Homo sapiens: one gene and its partners. The protein of the gene in region 4 purifies or fractionates together with the protein of the main gene of each other region. This does not show direct contact. Each region holds a gene or a part of one and is shown on either strand. Other genes may lie near its edges. The genes, in order: TBL1X, GRB10, EPB41L2, WDR59, ANO1, NRF1 and CRNN.

Region 1 (3,500 bases), on a different chromosome or scaffold from region 4:
GGATGGAAAAATAAATGCACATTAAAACTGTGCACTTGGCTTGGAACCCCTCCCACTTTTTACATTGGTCCACAGTGAGGAGTTGTGCCAATTTTATACCAATTTTGGTTTTAAACCACACACCTCACCCTCTCTTGTCCCCTCCTATTCTGGTCTCATGATTCTGCAGTGAAGATCCCCTTGACTTCTGGGGAATAATGGGATCCACAACCTTTCTTGCCGCCTTCACCTGAGTCCCTATTTTATTTTTAGAGACTGAGTCTCACACTGTTGCCCAGGCTAGGGTGCAGTGGCACAGTCATGGCTTACTGCAGCCTCGACCTCCTGGGCTCAAGTGATCCTCCTGTCTCAGCCTCCCAAAGCACTGGGACCACAGACAGTCCCTGTTACTGATTTCTCAGTCCCCTGCAGCTTCCTCCCTCTGCTTCTCTTTCTCCTACTCTGACCCAGGCGCGTGATTCTACTGAACTTTTCCATACTGTACCGTCATCCATCCCACCTGGCAGTCACATTCTTCCAGGATTCCCTCTGTCCCGTCTTTCTGGGAACTGGTCTTGCCCTTACAAACCTTTCTCCTTCACAGCATGTTACACTGCTTTAAAAAACTCTTTTAGAAAATCACAAAGTAATAATATCCTGTTCTCTTTTTCTTTTCTTTTCTTTTTTTTTTTTTTTTTTTTTTTAAGACAGGGTCTCTCTCTGTCACCCAGGTGGGAGTACAGTGGTACAATCATAGCTCACTACAGCCTCAACCTCCTGGCTCAAAAGATCCTCCTGCCTCAGCCTCCTGAGCAGCTGGAACTTATAGGTACACACCACCACGTCCAGATAATTTTTTTATTTTTTGTAGAGATGAGGTCTCGCTGGTCTTGAACTCCTGGGCTCAAGCGATCCTCCCGCGATCCTCCCGCCTTGGCCTCCCAAAGTGCTGGGAGTACAGGCGTGAGCCACTGTACCCAGTCCCTGTTTTCTTTCTTGCACTTCTGCCTGCCATTTTTCGCAAAGCTGTGGCTTTCGAAACTCCGGTGTTTTTTCCTCTCTTGTGCTCCTTTTTCCCTGGCAAACCCCTTCACACTGTGTGCCCGGGATCTTCCACTGACTCCTTCTGGCCCTGTCTAGTTTCCTCACTGCAAAACACACACGTGTGTATCTAAGAGGACATGTCTCCAAGGTCCAGCCAGCCATCAGATCTCAAGGCGCCTGTGACTCTGTTTTTCTCTGCTCATTGCCTTCTACCTCTCATCTGTTGAGAAGCCTTCATAGTTGCCTTCCCTCGGCACTCCAGATTCCAGCACTCTAGGGGCTAATGAAAGACTGTCCCATTTGTCACAATGGTTTCTAATCATTAAAAAGTGAGACGCCAGGGGCGGTAGCACACATCTGTAATCGCAGCACTTTGGGAAGCCAAGGCAGGAGGGTTGCCTGAGGCCAGAAGTTCTAGACCAGCCTGGCCAATATAATGAGACCCTATCTCTACATAAAATAAAAAAAATTAGCCAGGTGCAGTGGCACATGCTCGTAACCCCAGCTACTCGGAGGCTAAGGCAGGAAGATCAGTTTGGTCCAGGAGTTTGAGGCTGCAGTGAGCCATGACTGTGCCCCTGCACTCCAGCCTGGATGACAGAGCGAGACCCCGTCTCTAAGGAAAAAAGAGAGACAGTGTGCCCGCGGAGTTTAAATGAGGACATGTTGTTACTACTTTGGACAGTTACCGCGTTTTGTCATGGGCTTGTTCATTTGGGTGTGAACATATGAAGGAGGAAGGGGGTGTGGGAGCGTCTTGACCCATCGGTCACCATTGTCCACTCCATGGCCAGAATCAAGGGCCAAGAGTGCCTGAGGAGGTGATGCAGCTAGTTCTTTACATAGGTTGTATTGTTTTCTTTATTTTGAATATTGTCTTGTAATCAGAAATCATCTGGAGTGATGTTTCATTTAGTTATTCTTCAGCTGAAACCTGAGCCTTTCAGTTCTTCCTCACTTCTGAAGTAATTCAGGTTCAGAGCATATAAACATGTGTTTGCACATCCAGATACAACCCCAAGGCTTACTGAGGTTCACCTGATTCGAATATCTGGCGTGTTTCACAAGGAAAGAACCTCCTGCTGTATTTTTAAACGTGTGTGGAAAGTTTTCCATGGTAAACGGAAATCAGAGAATCAAAGAATGGTCAAAAAAACATGAATCAAAACAAAATGATGTCAATTGTGTCATGGCTATGGTTAGTCTAACCCTGAACCCAAGGAGTCATTTCAAGTAGCAGCAAGTGCCTATTTTATTAAATCCCCTGGACAGATGGACTTGGAATCCAGGCCTAAATGCTGTGTGCATCTCATTTGGGCTCTGCTTCTGAAGCGTTACCCTCCCATATAATGGATGGTCATTTGCAGAGATTTTGCACAGTCGCGATAGCACGTGGGCAGGTCTTCTCCACCGCAGCACTCAGTATTTGGGGCTGCGTGTTTCTCTGTGGTGGGGCCATCCTGGGCACTGTTGGATGTTGAGCAGCGTCCCTGGGCTCCACCCACCAGATGCCAGGAGCACCTCTCCTCCCTTAGTTGTAACAGCCAAAAAAGTCTCCAGACGTTGCCTAATGCCCCCCAAGGAGTCACAGTCACCCCCCGCCCCCGCCACGTTGAGAATTGTGCCATCAGGGATAGCACTTTCTGTCAAGAATAAATGGCCTTTTTGTCCTCAATGCCCCAATTGGGTTTGACACTCAGAACAACCATCACACTTAGTTCTTACCAACAGTTTGTCGTGTCCCCTTCCCTGCCCACCGTGGGATCCCTTCACCCCAGGCTCCAGGTCCATGCCGCTTCCCCCGTGGCCCCCTGGTTGCTGGGAGCCAGCTGTTTACGCCCCACTTCCCTGCGCTTCTCCTGCCCAGAGAGCAGAGGCCATTCCCAGAGCCCTCACCCCCGTGAGCTGACAGCTGTACCTTGGCTTGCTTCCCCAGGATGGCACAGTGTTCGACGGCCGCCCCATAGAGTCCCTGTCACTGATAGACGCCGTGATGCCCGACGTGGTGCAGACGCGGCAGCAGGCATTCCGAGAGAAGCTCGCTCAGCAGCAAGCCAGTGCGGCGGCGGCGGCGGCTGCGGCCACGGCAGCAGCGACAGCAGCCACCACGACCTCAGCCGGCGTTTCCCACCAAAATCCATCGAAGAACAGAGAGGCCACGGTGAATGGGGAAGAGAACAGAGCACATTCAGTCAGTGAGTGCAGGGGCTCTGGGAGTTCGGTGGGCCTCTCTGGGTTCATTGTTTTCTTCTTGGGCAAATCCGAATGCCTTCTTAAAAACCTGCCTGCTATAAATGTCTTAGAAGCTGCTCTCTAGTGTTTGCTTACGATCTGGCCGGAAGAACTTCCCGTTCCATTTTTTCCATCACAACCCTTGGACCTGAGCTTCTTCACCCTCATCTTCAACTTTAGGAAATCGTGCTGCGCCTGCTAATCTGAGAACTCTCATGTAACACATGATTATTGCCCGTGATAAA
Region 2 (3,500 bases), on a different chromosome or scaffold from region 4:
TTTCTCTTTTACCAACTTTCCCTATTTTTTAAAGGAAGATCCAGCTAACTATCCCACGTAGACCAGCAAATGATGCATGGATTTAAAATTACGAGAACTCACATGGCATGAAGGGAATCAGTGCTGCGAAATACAGGAAAGCCGTTCCTATAATGGTTTGATGACATGCCATAAAGTTTATTTTTACTGTGAACAAATCCCACTCTTCCCATAACAGCTTCAGCCTTGGCAAGGCGTCCAACTGAAACGTCTGGCCATTGTCATACAGGAGGAGATGGATAAAACGGGTGGCCAGTGCCACTTTCCCATCCACGGCTTCTAGCCAGTGACTTCACCCCAAAAAGATAATCTGACGTTTTAGTGTCCACAAAAGCTTCTCTATTTATTGGGTTGTTTTGAGCATTTTAAAAAGTCCTGTGTTGACTTTAAAGCGGCTCAGAGACATCGCCTAAGGCAAGACTAAGGGATATCACACAAAGACAAAAAATCCCCACCAAAGAGGCTCACAATAGAAGGGACAGTGACTATGGAGAGGGGTGCTGAGATTTAGGGATGTCAGGGATGGTGGCAGGAACTGCAGAGCTGAGGGGCGAGGTCCTTCTTCTCTGTGCCTTGGCTCACTTGTGTTTGTCTAGAACACATGCGTGGCCCTTGCACTCTCAAAAGCCTGGGTTCCTTCTCTGTACAGAATCGGCTCACCCATCGGCTTTCCTATGTGCAAAGCCTTCTTGCCCTTCCCAAGTGTCTCCTCTGCCCATACCCTGCCTGCCCCCCAGCTCCCTTCGGGTTGCATGGCAGCCCCCGGTAAGTTCCTCTGCAGCGTGGACCATGCTCCGTGACCTCTGGTACCCAGCAGCCTGCTCCATGGCCACTTCCCACCTGATGTGGTGAGCCCAGTTACCGCCCCGCTGTGCCACGGTTTCCTCAGCTGGGAAGCGAGGGTAACCCACACTGCCTCCCTCCGAGGGCACTGATAACAAGGAGGAGCTCATCAGCATCTGCACACAGTAAGCACTCAGCAAATGGCCTCACTTCACAAAATAATCTTTGGTGATTCCAGATTGATCTCCACATTTTTTTTTAATCCACCTGAAAGTAAGAAACAAAACTACTTATCTGAGAGGACACCAGAGAGAAGACATTGGGCCCAAGGAACAGCACCTGTGACCCTGTAGGGAGAGGGCTTTGCTGTCCCACAGAGCAAGCCTGCCCCTCCATCCCAGGGACTTAGCGCAGGTAGTCCCGGGGCACATATGGGCGAGTTCAGCCAGAACTCGAGGTTCAAGGGTCCTGGGCAACTACTCCAGCAGGGAGGCAGGCCTTCTGGCTTTCCAGCCCACCCTCGGGCACCTTCGCCATGCAACTGCACCTCCATATTCCCAGGCACTCCCCAAGGCTACTGTGATGCTCCCAAGAGATGCTCCCAAGAGAAAAACAGCTCTCCCACCAGACTTAACTCCTCAGGAGCTAAGTACAAGGGGTCACGCTTCAAAGAGCAAAGTTGAACAAACCCTGGGACAGGCATCATTCAGCATCAATGAATATGACAAAAAGTGAGAAGTCGGAGGGGAAGCCGGGGTGGGAAGCTGGGGAGGCAGCTGACCACGGGCGCCAGGGCCGCTGCACCCTCTCCCCTCCGTAAGAAACAGCTGCCACCTGGGGCAAGGTGATTATCTGGGCTGCGGAAGACCCAAGATGTCAGACCACAAAGAAAACTCTCAGAAGTTTCTAGAAGCAAGAAGAGCCCAGGAAATGAACAGAGCTCCCCGGAAGATGGGGTGCTGAGACAGAAGGCACCAGAACCCCATCCTGACAGAGGCCAGTGAGGGCAAGGGGCAGTCCCAGCAGAGATGGCTGTACATCCTCCGCAAAGGCCCAGAGAGGCACGCAGGGTCCCACGGAGCCCCACGCCATCCCGACTGCGACAGGGCAGACAGGCGGATCCTTGAGGGCTGCCCCTGGCTCTCAGCTTGATTCTACAAAGATCTTCATTCAGAATGTCTAAGGTACTCTCAGCACCTTCACCTTCGACATGACCATTCTCTAGACACCCTCCTCCCAGGCACTCGAGACAAAATCCAAGTCACCCTCCACACACTCTCTGTCTCCTCACAGCCCTGGCAAAATTCAAGTGCTGGCAAAACGCAGCTGCTCCTCCTCAGCAACGTGCTCAAATCCCCCCTCCTTCTTCATCCTCAGGCAGCGCACAATCATCTCCCATCCGGGGGCTCCTGAGACCACTTCCAAACCGGCCATGCTCTGCCAACCCTGCTGCCCTCTACCACTGCCCCCACGACCCCTGGCAACCAGAATGCTGGTGTCAAAACCCAAACCCAGCCCCTTCACACGCCTGTCCAGAACTCTTTCTCACGTGGCTCCTGAAAAAGGCACACAAAGTGCTTCAGCACCGGCCCCCATCTGCATCATCTCTTCTGCTCACAAAACCTCTGCCTCCATCTATCTGAGCTCCTATCACCCTTTGACATCCGTTCAGAAATCCTACCTCCCAGGAACCTCCCTCAACGTCCCCAGCACGTTCCTCCCTCCAGCCTCCCTGTTTCCACAGAGATGTGCCTACCCCTGAATTAGCAGAGGAATGTGGCAAAATGCAACTCTGAGGGAGGTCTGGGGTTGCACGACAAGCTCCAGGGGGTGCTGTAGCTGCTAGCCTCCCGTCCCTACTCTGGGTAGTGAGGACTTGGGGCATGCAATCAGCTCCATGGCTGTTCTTCCAATCTTTCCAGAGATTTTTCCTCTGGTGGTTTTCCTGCATATCCCTCTACCTAGCACAGTGCCTTGCACATAGCAGGCACTCAATAAAAGGTACTACTGGAATTGAACTGGCTACAAAGTTCAACCCAAGGGCGGCACACTGCACACACTCAGTGTATCCGTTATCCCATCAAAGCAATGTATCTGCCTCTTGACTTTGCAAGACCAACACTATTCCCCCCAACACCATTTAACTCACAGAGAGCAGTGTCCCTGCCGACAGCTCTCATCCTTGGAGAAGGCTCTGCCCATAAGGCCTGGACCTACCTGACAGCGAGGATGTGCACAGGCTGGGAGCGCTGCACCCTCTGCCTCGGGGACACCTGTGGCTGGATGGACCGAGGAGGGCCTGAAGCCCGAGGCTGGCTGCGGGCATGCTGGCCATTCTGCAGGAGGGGCACCGTGTCTGACTGCATGCTGCAGGCCGAGTACAGGCTCTCCAGGGATGCATTCATATCGTTCACCAGGGCTTCCAGGTCCACATCATCCTCTGCACAGAAAAAGGCAAGAGCAAAAAAGAAACTTTAACAATGGAGAGCAATCAAACCCAAATGTACATCTTGGTGATCAGGTTCCAAACCTCAATCCTATTTTTCAAATATTATGGAAGGGGTAGAGGGGAAACACCAAGACAAGTATGACTGTATGGAAGCATGCATATTACATGTATTCATCATGACTGACATTCCAGAGACAATTCAATCATTAGAGCTGGGCTGCATTTCTAC
Region 3 (3,500 bases), on a different chromosome or scaffold from region 4:
ATTTTATATAGCAGAATGCTAAATATTTTTGAAGGTTTTGTTTTGTTTCTGTTTCTACTCTGTCTCTACTAAAAATACAAAAATTAGCCGGGCATGGTGGCGCACGCCTGTAATCCCAGCTGAAGACATGGGCCTTTTTCTTTCTTTTTTGAACTGAAGTAGCCTGTTTAAAAGCTATGTGTGGGCTTTTTATTGAAAAGTGTGAATTGCTACTAGTTTTATAAGGCAAATAAACAGTTTATAGGGATCAATACCACTGAGTCACATTTTGCATTTCTAAAATCTGTGCTGTTTACTTGGAGAAAACAAAAGAAATGTGCCTACCTCCTCCATCCCACCTTTATTTAGAAACATTTCCAGTGGGCTTGTTTTTTTCAGATTCAGAATTACTGTACCTAACCACTGGGTACCCTTACAGATTTCAAAGCCTGAAGTAAATGTTTATGCTGGCTTTCGTAGTCAGCAAATAATAGCCAAACCCTAATTCACTGCTCTTTTATAGAATCTTGGAATCTCAGGGCTGAACCGTTAGGAGTCAGCAGATCCACTCTTAGCCCTAGTCTCTTCCTCTCAACATGCAAACAGTTCTAATGTCTTTGGAATGTCTGAGCAAATAGAAGATTTGTATGCGATTCTGTCACCAATTCTAGACAGAACATCCTTTGGGATGCCATGTTTTGGCATAAACCAGCAACTTGATATTATGAGATTTGTATCATTTCTCTGCGTGGGCAGTGCCCTAGACTAAAATCTAAAATGGAGTCAATGCCTGATGTCATTAACTATAGGGAAATGGCCTCCAAGTTAGCTATTAGAGTTGTTTAGGAATTATAGCTGGGCGCGATGGCTCACGCCTGTAATCCCACCTCTTTGGGAGGCTGAGGCGGGTGGATCATGAGGTCAGGAGATCGAGACCATCCTGGCTAACACGGTGAAACCCCGTCTCTACTAAAAATACAGAAAATTAGCCAGGCGTGGTGGCAGGCATCTGTAGTCCCAGCTACTCGGGAGGCTGAGGCAGGAGAATGGCGTGAACCCGGGAGGCAGAGCTTGCTGTGAGCGGAGATTGCGCCACTGCACGCCAGCCTGGGTGACAGAGCCAGACTCCATCTCAAAAAAAAAAAAAAAAAAGTTATAGGTAAGCCAAGAAGGAAAGAAATAAATAATCTCAGTTATCATCTAGAAATGATTTATAGTTTTTGTTGCTGTTGTTGTTTTTATTTTGTTTTTGAGACACAGTTTCACTCTGTCGTTCAGGCTGGAGTGCAGTGACGTGATCTTGGCTCACTGCAACCTCCGTCTTCCCAGTTCAAGTAATTCTCGTGCTTCAGCCTTCCAAGTAGCTGGAATTACAGGCGTGTGCCACCATGCCCGGCTAATTTTTGTATTTTTAGTAGAGACAGGGTTTCACCATGTTGACCAGGCTGTTCTTGAACTCCTGACCTCAAGTGATCCACCCGACTTGGCCTCCCAAAGTGTTGGGATTACAGGTGTGAGCCACCGCACCCAGCCGGTTTATAGTTATAGCTAATAGATTTTGGTAGCTTTTTCTATAAAGTATGTGTATGTGTGTGTATTTCATATGAGAGAGGGAATATTATAGGTATTTGTGATGTGAAGCACCTACTCATTGTATTTAATAAATATTTGATGAATTAATTCATTGAACCTTTAATATATTAGAGGTGAAGAATCTTTAGTGAAGATTCTTTGATAGAGTTGACATAGAAATGGGTAATGTTTCATGTAGAAATATCATGTCGGTAATGTTTATTTGCTTTTCTAACCACTGATATTGTTTCTCCTGGTTTTGTGGTTGGCTTGGGATCTGTGTTGTAAGTTTCTTAGAGGCATGTTTTTCATGTCTAGGAGAGTAGATAGGCTATATATTTCCATGGTGTTGGGATAGTATTAATTTTAATTAGAATTTCAGAGGCTTTCTGAATTTTCTTATTTTAAAGTGATGTCTCTTACTTCTTGGCATTGGAATAGATTTCATGTGATCTATGAGTGCATTCATACTGCTTCTGGATATTTTTTCTTCAAAGATTGCAATTGAGCTAATTTCATATTCTCAGTTATCTTTAAAATGGAAACATGTTTTCACTTCACAGATACCTCTCTGAATTTTGCATATTTTCACTCTACCTTATTAGAGCCATAAAGTCAAAAAGTACATAGATTGTCTCCCAAATAATCTGGAATAAATTGAAGGATAAGAACAATCTTTCCTGAGATCTGACCTGTATCTTAAATAAGGTTTTGCTTTAGATAGCCAAGTTGAAATTTTGCATAGATAACTAAGTTCGGCATCATGGGGATCATTTTAGTTCTTTCCAGGTTAGGAGGCATGGAAAGGCTCCCAAAGTGGTTTTGTCACTGTTCATCTATCGGACCTTATTGCCTAGGTCAGGTAGGGTAGTTCATGCATTTAAATCAAATCTTTCTGAAGAGACCAGTTTCCTCTTGCTTTGCTCTTAGGGCCTCACCATCAACCTTCATGAAAGAATTTTCAAATACTTAAAAACTTATGTTACCCTTCAGTTGCCTTTTTCCAGGATAATTGTGGTTTTAAAAAGCTTGTCATATAGTTCTGATTACCAACTCTGAAGTCACCTTTTCCAAGCCCTTGTATTTACGTTTCCAGACCTGCTGATGAGCTTCAGGGCTGGGCCATTATAACAACAGTGCTGAATTCACTCATATTTTTCAGAGTTTCCTACATTCTACTGATATATGTACATATCCCAGTAGCTTGAAGACATAAAATTAAAATGTGATTTACACTCTGCCATAATTCTTTGTTTCTTTCTCTTTTTGTCCAGAAGCTACTTGTTTTTCACCCTAGATTCATTTACCTTGAGGGAGATTATTTGGTTCAGACTCCTGACCTGGGGTGGAGAGTGGGGTTCTTGGGCCTCATGGGTGCATAAACTGCCTGAGACTGTAAGTGAGGTATTGTGTTCCCATGTGCATGCACTCCTGTGTGTGTGCAGCATCTCTGTGTGTGTGTGCACAAGTGGATGAGAGAGACAGGTTAAGGGAGAAAGAGAACTTTAGGAGTGGTTTTTGAAAGGGTTTTGGGAAACAGAAAAGATTGAGAACTGATGTTTCAGTTCTTATTTTCGAGATTAGAAGATGGAAGTTTTAAGAGTATTTTGTTTTTCTCTTTTTTTTTAATTTTTTCACCCTATTGCACTTTTCATCATTTATTCTCCCCTATCTCCCATTGTACTTCTTTCCATTCAATTGAATTCATTTAGTTGACCCCCATTTACCTAACTGTCAAGGTTAAACTGAATTCTGATATAATCCTGGCCACTCATATTCTTACCTGTGAACTTAATGAATGTGCATTTATTTCCTTACAAATTTCTTTGATGGAATATTGATTAGAAGGAATCAGTAACATGTCCACTCTATTTGATGCTGGTTAGACTGCCACATATGCCATTGTGACCTTGGGCAAATTATTTCTCAAAGCCTCGTTTGCTGTAGTA
Region 4 (3,500 bases):
GCCAAGGTCGGTGGATCACCTGAGGTCAGGAGTTCAAGACCAGCCTGGCCAACATGGCGATACCTCGTCTCTACTAAAAATACAAAAATTAGCCAGGCATGGCAGCACACACCTGTAATTCCAGCTACTCGGGAGGCTGAGACAGGAGAATCGCTTGAACCCAGGAGTTGGAGAATGCAGTGAGCCTATATCGCGCCACTGCACTCCAGCCTGGGAGACAGCAATACTCTGTCTCAAAAAACAACAAAAAAAAACAAGGCTGGGCACAGTGGCTTATGCCTGTAATTCCAGCACTTTGGGAGGCCAAGACGGGTGGATCACCTAAGGTCAGGAGTTTGAGACTAGCCTGGCCAACATGGTAAAACCCCGTCTCTACTAAAAATACAAAAAATTAGCCGGACATGATGGCAGGCGCCTGTAATCCCAGCTACTTGGGAGGCTGAGGCAGGAGAATTGCTTGAACCTGGGAGGTGGAGGATGCACTGAGCCGAGATCATGCCACTGCACTCCAGTCTGGGCAACAAGAGTGAAACTCCGTCTCAAAAAAAAAAAAAGTAAAAAAAAGAAAAAAAAATTTAAAAAAGAAAACTGAAGCTTAGAAAGGAAGTAACTTGCCCAAGATCACATGGAAGACAGGTGGCATAACCTAAATCTTAACACAGTCTGGCACGAAATCCTTAACGTCTTTGTTCTTCTCCCATTCATCACCACATCTTTATATTAAATTTTCTAGAAAAAAAAAATAGGCCAGGTGCAGTGGCTCATGCCTGTGATCACAGCACTTTGGGAGGCTAAGGTGGGAGGATCACTTAAACTCAGGAGTTTGACACCAGCCTGGGCAACACAGTGAGACCCCCATCTCGATGTTAAAATACACATATATAAATTTATTTAAAAAAGAAAAAATATTTCACAGTATACATATTAATAGTCACTTACACCAAAAAGTCCTATTCTGCCCCTCCATCTCTATAGTTTTTCAAAATGAACATTGTATGAAACTAAAAAAGTAGGAACCGAAGCTGGATTGCTCCAGAAAAACACACAGATTATTAATTACTTATAATTTTGCTCCTAGCCAAATAATTTGAGTTGTGCTTTTTTATTTTAGTTTTTATTAGAGTAAAACACAGTCCTCAATCTTTATCTTTGTGGCAAAGCTGTTGCAATGCTGAGACTAATAAATCACCAACCATTATTAGGTCAGAAGAGAGTATACTTTCTGCTGAGATGATTCATTTTCAATTTCAAGATAAAAGAAAATATTGAGGAATTTCTTTATGAATCTAGGATACGAACGTTTTTCTTTTTCTTTTCTTTTTTTTTTTTTTTCTTTTGAGACGCAGCCTTACCCTGTCGCCCAGGCTGGAGTCCAAGGGCGCAATCTTGGCTCCCTGAACCTCCACCTTTTGGGTTCGAGCGATTCTCCTGCCTCAGCCTCCTGAGTAGCTGGGACTACAGGTGCCCACCACCACACCTGGCTAATTTTCTGTATTTTTAGTAGAGACAGGGTTTCACTGTGTTAGCCAGGATGGTCTCGATCTTCTGACCTTGTGATCCGCCCACCTTGGCCTCCCAAAGTGCTGGGATTACAGGTGTGAGCGACCAAGCCCGGCCTAAACATTTTTCTTAAGAAGACTTAAAAAGAATTTGGGAGGCCATGGTAGGTGGATCATTTGAGCCCAGGAGTTCGAGACCAGCCTGGCCAACATGGCTCTATAAAAAATACAAACATTAGCCCGGCCTGGTGGTGTGTGCCTGCATTTCCAACTACTTAAGAGGCCAAGGCAGGAGGATCATTTGAGCCCAGGAGGCAGAGGTTGCACTGATTCAAAATCACGGCACTCCAGCCTGGGCGACATTGCGAGACCCTGTCTGAAAACAAAAACAACAAGACTGAAAAAGCATAATCCATAAATTTAACTGCATTAAAATTAAAGTTCTGTTCATCAAAAGACAGCACATAGCTGGGAGTGGTAACTCACAAATACAGACACAGTTACTTGGGAGGCAGAACCAGGAGGATCATTTGAGACCAGGAGTTCAAGGAGGCAGTGCACCATGATCGTGACTGTGAATAGGCACTCCAGCCACAGTAACAGCGAGATCGCATCTCAAAAAAAAAATTTTAATTTAAATTAAAAAAAAATTTTTAATACCATAAAAAGAATGAAAAGGCAAGCTACAACTTGGGAGAATGGATTTACAATATATATAACCATACAGAACTGGAATCCAGAAAAATTTTTACACTCTTCTTAATCTATAAGAAAGAGACAATGCAGCCGGGCGCGGTGGCTCGCGTCTGTAATCCCAGCACTTTGGGAGGCCGAGGCGGGCAGATCACGATGTCAGGAGATCGAGACCATCCTGACTAACACGGTGAAACTCCATCTCTACCAAAACTACAAAAAAATAGCAGGGTGTGGTGGCGGGCGCATGTAGTCCCAGCCACTCGGGAAGCTAAGGCAGGAGAATGGCGTGAACCCGGGAGGCGGAGCTTGCAGTGAGCTGAGATCGTGCCACTGCACTCCAGCGTAGATAACAGAGCAAGATTCTGTCTCAAAAAAGAAAAATAAATAAATCAATAAATAAAAATTGGCCTTGATACTTATCTACTTATAGCAGCTTTCTTCAGTCACTAAAAACTGGAAAAAAACTAAATGTCCATAAACAGGTGAATGAATACACAAATTGCAGTCTATATACTGGAACACTACTCAGCAAGAAGAAGGAATGCACTAACAGATAGGCTCAACAACAAGAATGAATCTCAAAAGCACTAGGCTAAGCAAAAGACGCCAGGTAGGGTGGTGGCTCATGCCTGTAATCCCAAAACTTTGGGAGGCCAAGGTGGGAGGGCTGTGTGAGGCCAGGAGTTCAAGACCAGCCTGGGCATCAACAGCCAGATTCCACCCCCACAAAAAATTTTTAAAAATTACCCAGGACTGGCCAGGCACAGTGGCTCACGCCTGTAATCCCAGCACTTTGGGAGGCCAAGGTGGGTGGATCGTGAGGTCAGGAGTTCAAGACCAGCCTGGCAAAGATGGTTAGCCAGGCGTGGTGATGGGCTCCTGTAATCCCAGCTACTCAGGAGGCTGAGGCAGAGAATCGCTTGAACTCAGGAGGCAGAGGTTACGGTGAGCCGAGATCGTGCGACTGCACTCCAGCCTGGTGACAGAGTGAGACTCTGTCTCAAAAAAAAAAAAAAAAAAAAAAAGAGCCAGGCCTGGTGGCATATGCCTGTCGACTCAGTTATTCAGGAGGCTGAGATGGGAGGACACTTGAGCCCAGGAGCTGGAGGCTGCACTCAGCAAGGACTGTGCAACTGCACTCCAGCCTGGGCAACTGAGAAAGATTCTGTCCCTTCAAAAAACAAAACAAAACAAAACAAAAATGAAAGCCAGACTCAAAAGGCTACACATCATATCACATGATTCCATTTGTTATAGAAATCCCATCAGCAGCTGCCAGAGATAAGGGATGGAGATTGAGTACAC
Region 5 (3,500 bases), on a different chromosome or scaffold from region 4:
GATGGCCTCGATCTCTTGACCTCGTGAACCACCCCCCTCAGCCTCCCGAAGTGCTGGGATTACAGGTGTGAGCCACTGCGTCTGGCCCGTCTGCCCCTTCTTTAAGAACAGCTTAAAGCTAAAACAAGATACCAGCCTCGCACCCTCTGACTATGGAAGCAGCTGCCCCCCTACTGCCCCCCACGCAGCCCACCCCCCACCCCCCACAAACAGCGCGCAGTGAGATAGTTACGTCCTCGTCCCGCTCCAGCTCCAGGCCCGCCTCCAGGAGGTTGCCCTCGTACTCCTCCCTGCGGAAGCGCTTGTCATCCTCGTGGTAGTCCATCGGGGGCTCCCCCGAGCCTGCATCCAGCGACGCCCCCTTGCCCGGCAGGGGGTGGTCCTGCTTGACGCTGCGAGCCCCAGAGGGGGTGTCGCTGTGCTGCACCCTCCTGACCAGGGTCCGGTTGCCCGAGGGCCTCTTGTGATGGTACACCAGGATGTAGTCCACCTTGCGCCGGCCGTCCCTGAAGTACAGGCCATACTTGCACTCGGCATCAGGGTCCACAGATAAGGAGTTCAGCAGCTAAGGGTGGAAGAAAAGACACCCATTCACCATCGAGCTGCTCGTGATGGGCCTTTGGAGGGTGCGCTGCTCCCTTCATCCACTCACTCCTCACTCACTCGTTCAACAAACACTCCCTGAGCGCCCTCCACGGGCCAGGCACTGTCCTAGGGCCTGAGATACACCTGGGAACACAGCAGAAGACCCTGCCTTCAGGGAGCTGAACTTCGAGAAGGAGGTATTCACTGCTAATCATTCATGAAGGTGCCAAGCCACATATGGTCCCCCAGAAGCCCTCCTGGTCTATGGAACTAGAGCAGGCTGGATGTCAGGAACCTCCCTGGCTGCTTGCAAAAAGCTATGGTAGGGGATGGTTAATGGGTACAAAAAATAATGAGAAAGAATAAGACCTAGTATTTGACAGTACAACAGGGGACTATCATCAATAATAATTTAATTGTACATGGACAAATAACTAAAGGAGCATAACTGGGTTGTTTGTAACACACAGGATAAATGCTTGAGGGGAAAATACCCAGTTTTCCATGAGGTGATTATTACGTATTGCATTACCTGTACCAAAATATCTCATGTACCCCATAAATATATACACCCACTATGTACCCACCCAAATTAAAAATTAAATGAACAAACAAAATATCCCCCAGCAACAAAAGCTATGGCAAAAGCTACCAAGTGAATGAGGGCTCCCCATGCACATGGATAGGGGCTGAGGCAGAGCTGAGCTCAGGTTCTGTGCGTGCAAATCTCAATCTCTGATGGCCAGTGTCAGAGGCAGTGCCATGTCAAGGTGGCCACAGGGCCACTAACTAGCTGTGTGTCCAGAGGTGAGGCTTTCACTGTCTTAGTCAGGGCTCTCCCCCAAACAGAGCCTGAGCAGAGGCCAGGGGTGCAAGCGTTTTACTTGGGAGGTGATCTCAGGTGCCAGAGTAGGGTGAAGGGGAGGGAGGCTGACAGGGGTGGGTTAAGGAGCGGCCACCGCTATGTGCAGCTGGGGTCCGTCCTGCTGGGGACCCTCGGAGTGACCTTGAAGGGCACATCCCACTGCCAGTACCCAGAGGGTGAGGAAGTTGGGTGATCATGCACCCGCTCTGGCCCTTTCTTGGCTGGGGGTCACTCCTGGGGTGTTAATGACCCTGCGCTTGCACCTTCCCCACACGTGGCCTGCGGCAGCACCTGCACGGTCAGTCACCTTTGGGTGCAGAGGACAGTGAGCCACTGGTATGGATGGGCACCGCTGGTGGGTGCCCTGGGGTGACCAAGGGGGCGGGGTTAGGGCTCCAACAGGGCCTGCCCTGCCTCAGTTTCCTTATTTGTTTGAAGGACTCTAGGGGGCCACGGGAGATAGCAGTATGGAGCAGTTTGTTTAAAAACCAGATATTCCCACAGTGGCAGTGTGATGGGACCATTGCTAAAGCCAAGCCTGCATTGCTGGAATTCCCGAGGGGTTTGGCCGGTTATCAAGACAGACAGGTCGATCAGCAATCTGGGTTTCCGAAATAAGAAAAAATAAAAAAAGCCATGCTGGGTAGAACCTAACAGGCAACTCCAAGCTGCTAATGGTCCACAGAGCTGTGCCTCATCCCTCGAGCTGGCCGCCTGGTTTCCACCTCAGTTTCCTGTGGCTACGTGAGGACGCTCCCTAGGGCACTATCAGTTCCCGAGGGGCATCATCCGAGAAGAGGGCCTCCCTGATGGAGTGCAGGGACGGCATGCTGCGCCAGGCAGGGCCCGAGCACCTGTGGCCTTTGGACAGAGCTGTGCTTGGGCCTCGCTGGCCTGGAGGGTCCCCCCACGTGGTCGCCTGGAGCCCCTGGGCAGCTTCCGGCTGCACCATGGCTCTAAATGGCTGTGCACTGGTCGGGAAAAGGGGCAGGCAGAATCCCTCATTCGAGGCAGGTGGGCTGTATACAACCCAAAGTGTATCAGGGAAGCCGGAGGGTGGAGCCCCTCCCCAAACAGTCAGCACTGCAGTGGGGGAGAGGGGGAGGGAAGGCCTCGAGTGGAGGCTGTCCTTTTTAGTTGTAGGGGAAGGAGAGAGGAGGCTCTGGGCCAGGGCTGCTGGTTGGGGGCTGCCCCACCTTTCATAGGTGTTGATGTCAAGGGTCTAGACTCCTCTACCCCTGGTTAGGGGACAGTTGGGGCCATGTCCCTGGCACCTTGGCCTCTCTGGCCCTAGGATGCCTCTCCTGGAAACAGCATTGCTCACCACCTGGGAGGGCCTGGTCAGCATCTGGTGCCGGCAGGAGGCTGAAACTAAGCAACTGACTTCTCTCTACAGTAACACAGGGCCCCGCTGTGCTGGTGACCTTCAGGAGGACCTGGACTCAGTGTGCGTGCCCCGCCCACCTTGCCCTCTGTGACAAAGTCTGAGGGTGCTTAGGGGCCACGACCACGCCCATGTGGGTGGGTGGCTTGGGAGGGCTCAGGGGGAAGGGTGGGGGAGGGCTGGCTTTTGAGGGCAGTGGGTTCCCATGCCCAGCCCCATGAAGGACGGGGTTCACGGAAGACCCCAGTATCGCAAGTCTGTAGCCAGCACGGGGGGCCTGCATTCCTTCTGCAGGAGAAGCACGAAAGAGCTATTCTTCTCAATTCGCCAAGGAGGAAACTGAGGCCCAGCAGGGCAGGAGAGCCCGGGTTACAGCGCAGGCGGGAGGCTGAGCTCAGCCTCAAGTCCCATCTGCACGCCCAAGGTGCGGCCCCCCTTAGTAGGAGCCGCGACTAAGGGTGACGCTGTTTCTCGGCCCAGGTATGTCATCTCGCTGAGTCCCCACAAGCTGACCCTATGAGGGGGTTACTATAGTTAGGTCCATTTGACCTGGAGGAAACTGAGGCTCCCACGGGTGAGCTGCCCAGCTCAGTGGCCCTGAGTACCAGACTCCTGCTGGCTGACCCCAGTGCAGGGCTCTGTCTCTGGTGCTGAGGGGCATGGGGA
Region 6 (3,500 bases), on a different chromosome or scaffold from region 4:
ACATGTTGTGGGAAGGACCCGGTGGGAGGTAATTGAATCATGGGGGCAGATCTTTCCCATGCTGTTCTTGTGATAGTGAATAAGTCTCACAAGATCTGATGGTTTTAAAAGGAGGAGTTTCCCTGCACAAGCTCTCTCTCTTTTTGCCTGCTGTCATCCATGTAAGATGCGACCTGCTCTTCCTTGCCTTCCACCATGATTGTGAGGCCTCCCTAGCCAGGTGGAACTGTAAGTCCATTAAAACCTCTTTCTTCCCAGTCTTGGGTATCTCTTATCAGCAGCATGAAAATGGACTAATACAACAGCTAAAGAAGAAAATCTTCTGTCTTTCACAAGCTGAAAGACAGAAGAAACTACACAGAAAGATGATACATACAGAACAGATGGTTAAGAGACATACAAGTGAGGAAGACTAACATAAGTAACTGGAGCCATGGAATGAAAAGAGATGGAATGCAGCAGAAGCAAAATCTCATGGCTAAAATTTCCGGGAGAGGGGGGCAGGCCATGTGGGAGATAATCTTTGAAAGAGTAGCGGTTAGAATGAAATAGCTGAATTCTCAATAGCAGCAATGGAATCCAGAAGACAGTGGAACAGTACCTTCAACATGAGGAAAGAATAACCACCAAGCTAGAATTCCATACTCAGTGAAAACATCCTTCAAGGTTGAAGTTTAAGTAAAAACATTCACAGACAAGCAAAAATAGAACTTGTTACTAGCAGATCCATGTTAAAGCAAATATTAAATGGTGTCTTTAGGCAGAAGTAAAACCATCTCAGGAGACCAGTTGGAGATGCAGGAAAAAAAATTAACATTATTTTTTAAATAAAAATATTGTTCGCTGGATGCGGTGGCTCACGCCTATAATCCCAGCACTCTGGGAGGCCGAGATGGGTGGATCACCCGAGGTCAGGAATTCAAGACCGGCCTGGCCAACAGGGTGAAACCCCATCTCTACTAAAAACACAAAAATTAGCTGGGCATGGTGACGCACACCTGTAATCCCAGCTACTCGGGAGGCTGAGACAGGAGAGTTGCTCCAACCCAGGAGGCAGAAGCTGCAGTGAGCCAAGATTGTGCCACTGCACTCCAGCCTGGGCGACAGAGTGAGACTCCATCTCAAAAAAAAAAAAAAAAAAAAAAAGTCCTGTGGTGTTTAAAATACAGTTGTCCCTTCAAATCCTCTTGAGATTGTTTCTAGCATCTTGATGTGTAGATGCTCAAGTCCCTGATATAAAATGGTGTAGTAGTTTCACATGACCTATTCACGTCCTTCTGTATCATTTCTAGGTTACTAATACTAATATTATAATACCTAATACAGTGTAAATGCTATACAAATAGTTGTTGTATTGGCCTTTTATTTGTATTATTTTTAATTGTTATATTGTTACTTTTAATTTTTTCCTAATACTTTTGATCAAAATTGGTTGAATGTGCAGATGTGGAGCCCACAGATAAAGAGAGCCAACTGTATACCAAAAATGAATACAAAGGACAACAATAGCATATAGGATGGGCGCATGAAATGCAAGTGTTCTAAGAAATTTGTATTATCCCTGTAGAGGTTAAAAGTTCCAAGTACATACAACGTTTTGCTTTTCCTTTTTTTTTTTTTTTTCAACTGGACACAGGCTCTCACTCTGTCACTCACGCTGTAGTGCAGTGGTGTAATCATAGCTCACTGCACCCTCAAACACCTGGGCTCAAGTGATCAGTCATCCCACCACAGCCTCCCAAGTAGCTGGGACTAGGGAGCACGTCACCACACCCAGCTAATTTTTTTTTGGTAGAGATGGGATTGCACTACATTGCCCAGGCTGGTCTCAAACTCCTGGGCTCAAGTGATCCTCCCACCTTGGCCTCCCAAAGTGCTGGGATTACAGGTGTGAGCCACTGAGCCTAGTCAACATAAGGCATTGATAAATAAAGGATGTATGTTACAATTTCTACAGGTATTGATAATAGTAAAAGCTTATAACTTTCAAACTAACAAGAAAAAAATGAAAAAATACAAAATTTTCAATCACTACAAAAGAAAACGCCAAGAAAGAGAAAAGTAAACAGAACAGGTAGGGCAAAGAGAAAGCATATAGAAAAGAAGGTAAATTTAAATCTAAATACATGTCAGTGATTCTGTTTAACGTAATTGGAATAAATGCTTCAGTTTAAAGCCAAAACATAGGCAGAATAGATGAAAAAATAAAACCAAAGCCATAACACTGATAGTAAGTGATTACAGACCTCAAGTCTCAGTATAATACAGGCTCAAGTTATAACTGCAAGGCTTAAAAAAGTTGTGATAAAGGCCAGGCATAGTAACTCACACCCGTAATGCCAATAATTTAGGAGGCCGAGGCAGAAGGATCGCTTGAGCCCAGGACTTTGAGGCCAACCTGGGTAACACAGTGACATTTCTGTCTCTACAAAATATACAAAAATTAGCCAGATGTGGTGGTACACATCAGCAGTCCCAGCTACTCCAGAGGCTGAGATGGGAGAATCACTTGAACCCGGAAGATCAAGGCTGCAGTGAATCATGATTGTGCTGCTGCACCCCAGCCTGAGCAACAGAGTGAGACGCTGTCTCCAAAAAAAAAAAAAAAAAAATTAAAGAAGAGCTTCTAATCCAAACAACACTACCTGCAGCTGCCAGATGAGCTGTCACCTCATCAGCTGCTGTGGAGTTGAGTATATCTGAGTCATCGTAAGAGGTGTCCTCGGGAGAAGAAGGCGAGTCTTCATCAGCACTCAGCATACTATGCTCGGTGTAAGTAGCCACATGGACCTGCTGCACTTGCTGGGCCACTGCATGTGCTTCTATGGTAGCCATATGTTCGGTTTGGGTCACTCCGTGTTCCTCCATGAAGTTCTACTGTCAGACAAAAAAGAAAAAGAACAGGATTCAGTGTGTAATATAACACAATGTTTAAACTAAGAGATATTTTATTCAAGAGCAGAGGAACCTTGACAAAATTCCAATTTCACTACTTACCGTGCCACACCAAGTCACAGGAAATGGGAAGCACCATGCAAATGTGACATAAAAATGACAGAGTGGTGTTCTTACGTGAAACCATTTTGATGGAAATTCGCTGTACTAATTTTATACCTCAGATCACAAAACAACAGATACCCTTAATAATAAAAAGACATTCAAATATAACAATAAAAACATACTTAAGATAGCTCAGTGACTAGCATTTGGCCTTGTGAACATAAGAACACTTAGTAAATAAGTGAAATACTTAACATTTTCTTTGTATGTCAAAGACGAGTGAGAGTCAAATAACTTTTTTCCCAAAAATTCAAATTGGTCTTTCTGCTTATAAAACTGCTTCTTGAGGGCATGGCGGCAAGTGCCTGTAGTCCCAGCACTTTGGGAGGCCCAGGCAGGTGGATCATCTGAGGTCAGGAGTTCGAGACCAGCCTGGCCAACATGGCAAAACCCTGTCTCTATTAAAAATACAAAAAAATTAGCCAGGCGTGGTGGTGGGC
Region 7 (4,172 bases), on a different chromosome or scaffold from region 4:
CTGTGCCCATATGTCCTTGTCCCTAAGGCCATCATCATCCTGGTTGCTTTAGATGCAAACCAAAGACAGGAAAGTGCATCAAGGCCTTGGTTCTGGTTTGCCAGGTGGGGTGGGGTGAGGCTCCAAAGTCTCCCCCTAGCTATTAACAACCTGCTCTTCAAAATTTCATTTCTGATGTGATCAGTCTGCTAATATTTTTGAGTAACTGCTTCGTGCAAGCCCAGAGCTATGCTTCTAATGAATGTCTATGAATGGATGATTACATTTCAGATAGACGTGGGAAATATTTACTGTATCAAATTTAAGAGGCGGCAGAAAGCAGCAATTATTTTCATTTTGAAATATTCCAAGGCTCTGCTCCTGTCTGAGTTGTCCTTTTAGAGCCCTTTTACCTTGTCTTTAAGTTAGAATTAATTAAAACCAAGGTTTTAATCTAAAGAGCCAGGACTTGCCAACTCCCATGACCATCTCTGGTTCTTTCACCTTTTTTTCTGCCTGCACAGCTGCCATCTGTCCCGGCAGGCCTGGGTTTAGCTGCTGCCTCCTCAAATTCCCCAGGCAAGGCCTCTGCAGGCAAACCAGGTTTCACTCTCCTGCTATGTCCCCTCTCCACCCGGCTCAGCACACCGTACCACAATCACATCGGCAAACTCTTGCTCCAAGAGTCTTTTCAGCTCCCCTCGGGTGAGCGCTGTGCAGTTGCCCTCCGTCCTTGCATAGCGCCTGAAGGCCTCGATGATCCCATTAATGTTTTGCAGTAACTGAGGCATCTTTGAAGTCAACCTGGAAAAGATGAAAAGTTCCCTTGGAGGCTCCATAATCAACCTCAGCTATTTCCTTTATAGCACGTCTGCTGCTAGGTCTTTCCTTGCACGTTCAGCTCTGTTTTTAGTTTTCCTTTGTCCTTTCCTACATAATGCATCTTATGTATGGGAAGGAGGAGCACACAGGATGGAGGCAGGTTCCTGAGTCAGGATTAAATGCTGGCCCCACCACTTAAGTATGGTGTGAGCTGGGACAAGTTGCTTTGCCTCTCCATGCCTCAGTTTACTACTCATTGTAATTGAAGGTGATATTAGTACTCTGTGGGATTATTGTGAAGATTTAAAGACATAATTCATAAAAAGCACTTGGCAGATGCCTGGCTTATATTAAGTGCTCCTTATTAAATATAATTATTATGCTATTATATACATATACACACATATAATTTTTGTACACCTATATAATCACTTTCCTGTACATCATCTCTTCTAATCCTTATTATTTCCACTTTTTTTTATAGGTGAGGAAACAGGCTCAGAGAAGTTAGGCCACACAATTTTTAAGGAGCCAAGAAATCCTAGGATCCATTTTTCCTTAACCCAAATGCAATGGGCTTTCTAGAATGTACCCTGTGGACAGGATTTATTTATTTATCACAAGGGTGTTAGGGTCCCATCGGGAACACCAAAAGGAAGTAAATACATCTGTGAGTCAACCCCTGTCTTGGATGGGAGCCAAGCAGAAATTCCAGGGACACAGCCCTCCCTTCTTGTTTTTTTTGGGAAAGTGGGAAGAAACTGGGCTACCACCTGCTGGGAATGCTCAGGAGGGGGGAACCTTCTTTGGGTGGGAGGCCTTCCAGTTCTGAGGGTCCAAGTTTCTCTGCATGTCGCCTCTGTCCACAGCCCTGAGACTTATCAGAGAAGTCAGCTTGCCCAACAGGCACGTGGCTCCATCAGGCCCAGATTTCTGGTGACCTATGAGTTGGTTCCTAATCAAAGGGAAAGCTTTTCTTTTTCATTAGCCAGAAATCTAGAGGTAGGTTGAGGTGAGGCCTGGGTTTGGTTGCATGAGCAAAAGGAAAAGAGACTTGAAGATTCATTAAGCAGAAGCCTTGGAGAGACCCAAAGGAGGAGATGGTATCAAAGATGACAAGTCTCAAATGCAAGGGGAGATGGAGCCTGTAGCAGCTGGAAAGCCAGAGAGAGGATGGGACGAGGCAGATATAGGTAGGAGAAGAAAGAGAAAAAAGGAAGGAAGGAGACTTGAGTTCTAGAAAAAGCAGATTAGTGTGGCCATGAGGACTCAGTAAGTCATAGCAAAAGGTGGGCTGTTCAGGAGAAACCCTTTCTAGGACCTGGTAACCAACAATTTCAGGCAAACTTTTCATCAAGGTAAAAAACTGGGGATGTTTTCCTCAACATAGATGAAAAATATCTTTCTTTTTTTTTAAAACCATGTAGCAGACTTTAACCACTGACCTTTAGATAATAAAATAATAAGATGACCTTTTAGTTACATTTTAGATTCCTTAGAAAAATCTACACATATTTTGCCTAAATATCACCCTGGTGTAGGAGAGGGGAATCATGTAAACCCCTTCATCCATGACACAGTTTGATCTTATTGTCTAGGTTGGCATAAGTAAACTGATTCTGATCCCATAGACTCTCAGCACTGCAAAGAAGCTTCCAGAGCCTTAGAAAAAAGAAACCTTTGCTGATCCAGGAAGGCACATGGGTGGCCCCATAGCCGCTGCCCACACAGTTTCCCAGTGAGAGGAGCTGCTCCCAGGCCAGCCTCAGGGAGGAGGAGAAAGCCTGATTGCTTCAGGAGAGCATGTTTCCCAACGGTAGCGTTGGTTTGCCCAGTGCTCACAGCTAGCTCTGAAGGATGCATAGTCCATACCTGACTGCCCCAGTTTTATGAGCTCAGATCACCAAGACACTGAGAATGAGAAAGAGGTTTCTTATGAGGGGACTTACCTAATGCCCAGGTGGGATGAAACAAGTGGCTGTTAAGTGGTGTGAGGAGTACCAGGTCAGTGTGATGAGAACCTTTTATAGGGGTTTTAACCAAGGCTCTTGTTTTAGACAGGATATCCTGCCCTATGGGAAGGCTTGATTCATCCAAGATCCAGCCCAGCCCAGCCACACCTCCTCTTGTCTCTGTTTTACCTGCTGATGTGTGACTGCCTTGGTCTAATTAACAGGCCCCTCCTACCACATTTGGTACCTTCTGTAGCTGAGTCCTCTTGACAGGGAAGCTTCTTTCCATTGTGATGGGCTCAGCAGTGCTTGGTACAGGCTGGGGTCCTGGTGAACATTCTTTGTCTCTATGAGCCTACAAAGTTATGGGACTCTTTCCTTTTTTTTTTTTTTTTTTTTTTGAGATGGAGTCCTGCTCTGTCGCCCAGGCTGGAGTGCAGTGGTGCGATCTTGGCTCACTGCAACCTCCGCCTCCTGGGTTCAAGCAATTCCCTGCCTCAGACTCCTGAGTAGCTGGGATTACAGGTGCCTGCCACCATGCCCAGTTAATTTTTGTATTTTTAGTAGAGACAGGGTTTCACCATGTTGAACAGGCTGATCTTGAACTCCTGACCTCATGATTCACCTGCCTCTGCCTCCCAAAGTGCTGGGATTATAGGTGTGAGCCACCGTGCCTGGCCACTGTTTCCTTTTTTAATATAAATGTTCAAGAATATATCTATTGAGGTTAACTTTTACAAAGTAGCCACTCTGAGAGGGCACACATGTTTTTGTGGTGATGTTACTTAGAACTGTTATTACTTAGAACATTTTTTGAATTCTTGTTTTGTAAGTGCCTTTCACACCTAGTGTATGAGACACAAGAAAGCCAGTTTCATCTCTTTAAAGTTGGTCTCATTTTTAATTAAAACAAAAAAAGTTAATACCTTCCCCACCCCATGCTATGGGTAGGTAGCATTTTGTAGCTGATGAGAAAAAAGGCTTACCATGATCATGTGGTAACTCCTCATTGCAAGGACAGGAAACTCAACTGGTGGCTAATCAGCAAATATTTATGGAAAGCTTGCTCCATTTCAGGCAGAGGGCTAAGGCCCTAGGAATACAGTGTTGAATACGATGGCAGCAGTTTCAACTCTCATGAAGTCTATAGCCTGGCCATCCCAGGGGTAAGTCCCCAAGAGGTTAATGATAATGGTATTGCCATTTCATTTCATTTGATTTTATTCCATTTTCATTACCATCTCATCTTATTTGATCTCCCTAGCAATCCTCTGAGGTGGTATGGCTAAGCCCAATTCATAAATGAGAACACTGAGAAATCCTCAGAGAAGTAGCCACTCTGTGAAGCGGAGACGGTGCTGGACTAGAGCCCCTCAGACTCCAGGCCTGTGTTCTCTCTGTTGCACCATGCTGCCATTT

The links.
Region 1: the proteins of WDR59 (region 4) and TBL1X purify together in Homo sapiens (affinity purification with mass spectrometry; 2 studies listed by BioGRID and IntAct, with this or other methods). This does not show direct contact.
Region 2: the proteins of WDR59 (region 4) and GRB10 purify together in Homo sapiens (affinity purification with mass spectrometry; 2 studies listed by BioGRID and IntAct, with this or other methods). This does not show direct contact.
Region 3: the proteins of WDR59 (region 4) and EPB41L2 purify together in Homo sapiens (affinity purification with mass spectrometry; 2 studies listed by BioGRID and IntAct, with this or other methods). This does not show direct contact.
Region 5: the proteins of WDR59 (region 4) and ANO1 purify together in Homo sapiens (affinity purification with mass spectrometry; one large-scale study listed by BioGRID and IntAct). This does not show direct contact.
Region 6: the proteins of WDR59 (region 4) and NRF1 purify together in Homo sapiens (affinity purification with mass spectrometry; 2 studies listed by BioGRID and IntAct, with this or other methods). This does not show direct contact.
Region 7: the proteins of WDR59 (region 4) and CRNN purify together in Homo sapiens (affinity purification with mass spectrometry; 2 studies listed by BioGRID and IntAct, with this or other methods). This does not show direct contact.

The regions. Positions count from the first base shown.
Region 1 is NC_000023.11:9,685,058-9,688,557, forward strand, and holds part of TBL1X (F-box-like/WD repeat-containing protein TBL1X), read left to right. Parts: intron 1-2,959; coding exon 2,960-3,218; intron 3,219-3,500. UniProt on the Homo sapiens protein: F-box-like protein involved in the recruitment of the ubiquitin/19S proteasome complex to nuclear receptor-regulated transcription units. Plays an essential role in transcription activation mediated by nuclear receptors.
Region 2 is NC_000007.14:50,671,397-50,674,896, forward strand, and holds part of GRB10 (growth factor receptor-bound protein 10), read right to left. Parts: intron 3,263-3,500; coding exon 3,040-3,262; intron 1-3,039.
Region 3 is NC_000006.12:131,056,746-131,060,245, reverse strand, and holds part of EPB41L2 (band 4.1-like protein 2), read left to right. Parts: intron 1-3,500. UniProt on the Homo sapiens protein: Required for dynein-dynactin complex and NUMA1 recruitment at the mitotic cell cortex during anaphase.
Region 4 is NC_000016.10:74,975,124-74,978,623, forward strand, and holds part of WDR59 (GATOR2 complex protein WDR59), read right to left. Parts: intron 1-3,500. UniProt on the Homo sapiens protein: As a component of the GATOR2 complex, functions as an activator of the amino acid-sensing branch of the mTORC1 signaling pathway. The GATOR2 complex indirectly activates mTORC1 through the inhibition of the GATOR1 subcomplex.
Region 5 is NC_000011.10:70,084,817-70,088,316, reverse strand, and holds part of ANO1 (anoctamin-1), read right to left. Parts: intron 2,900-3,500; exon of another isoform or gene 2,799-2,899; coding exon of another isoform or gene 2,775-2,798; exon of another isoform or gene 2,647-2,774; intron 566-2,646; coding exon 233-565; intron 1-232. UniProt on the Homo sapiens protein: Calcium-activated chloride channel (CaCC). Plays a role in transepithelial anion transport and smooth muscle contraction.
Region 6 is NC_000007.14:129,656,720-129,660,219, reverse strand, and holds part of NRF1 (nuclear respiratory factor 1), read right to left. Parts: intron 2,878-3,500; exon of another isoform or gene 2,875-2,877; 5' UTR 2,869-2,874; coding exon 2,646-2,868; intron 1-2,645. UniProt on the Homo sapiens protein: Transcription factor that activates the expression of the EIF2S1 (EIF2-alpha) gene. Links the transcriptional modulation of key metabolic genes to cellular growth and development.
Region 7 is NC_000001.11:152,411,464-152,415,635, forward strand, and holds the start of CRNN (cornulin), read right to left. Parts: upstream 2,801-4,172; 5' UTR 2,751-2,800; intron 784-2,750; 5' UTR 771-783; coding exon 633-770; intron 1-632. UniProt on the Homo sapiens protein: Promotes cell proliferation, G1/S cell cycle progression and induces expression of the cell cycle regulator CCND1. Regulates proliferation induced by pro-inflammatory cytokine response via activation of NFKB1 and PI3K/AKT signaling pathways.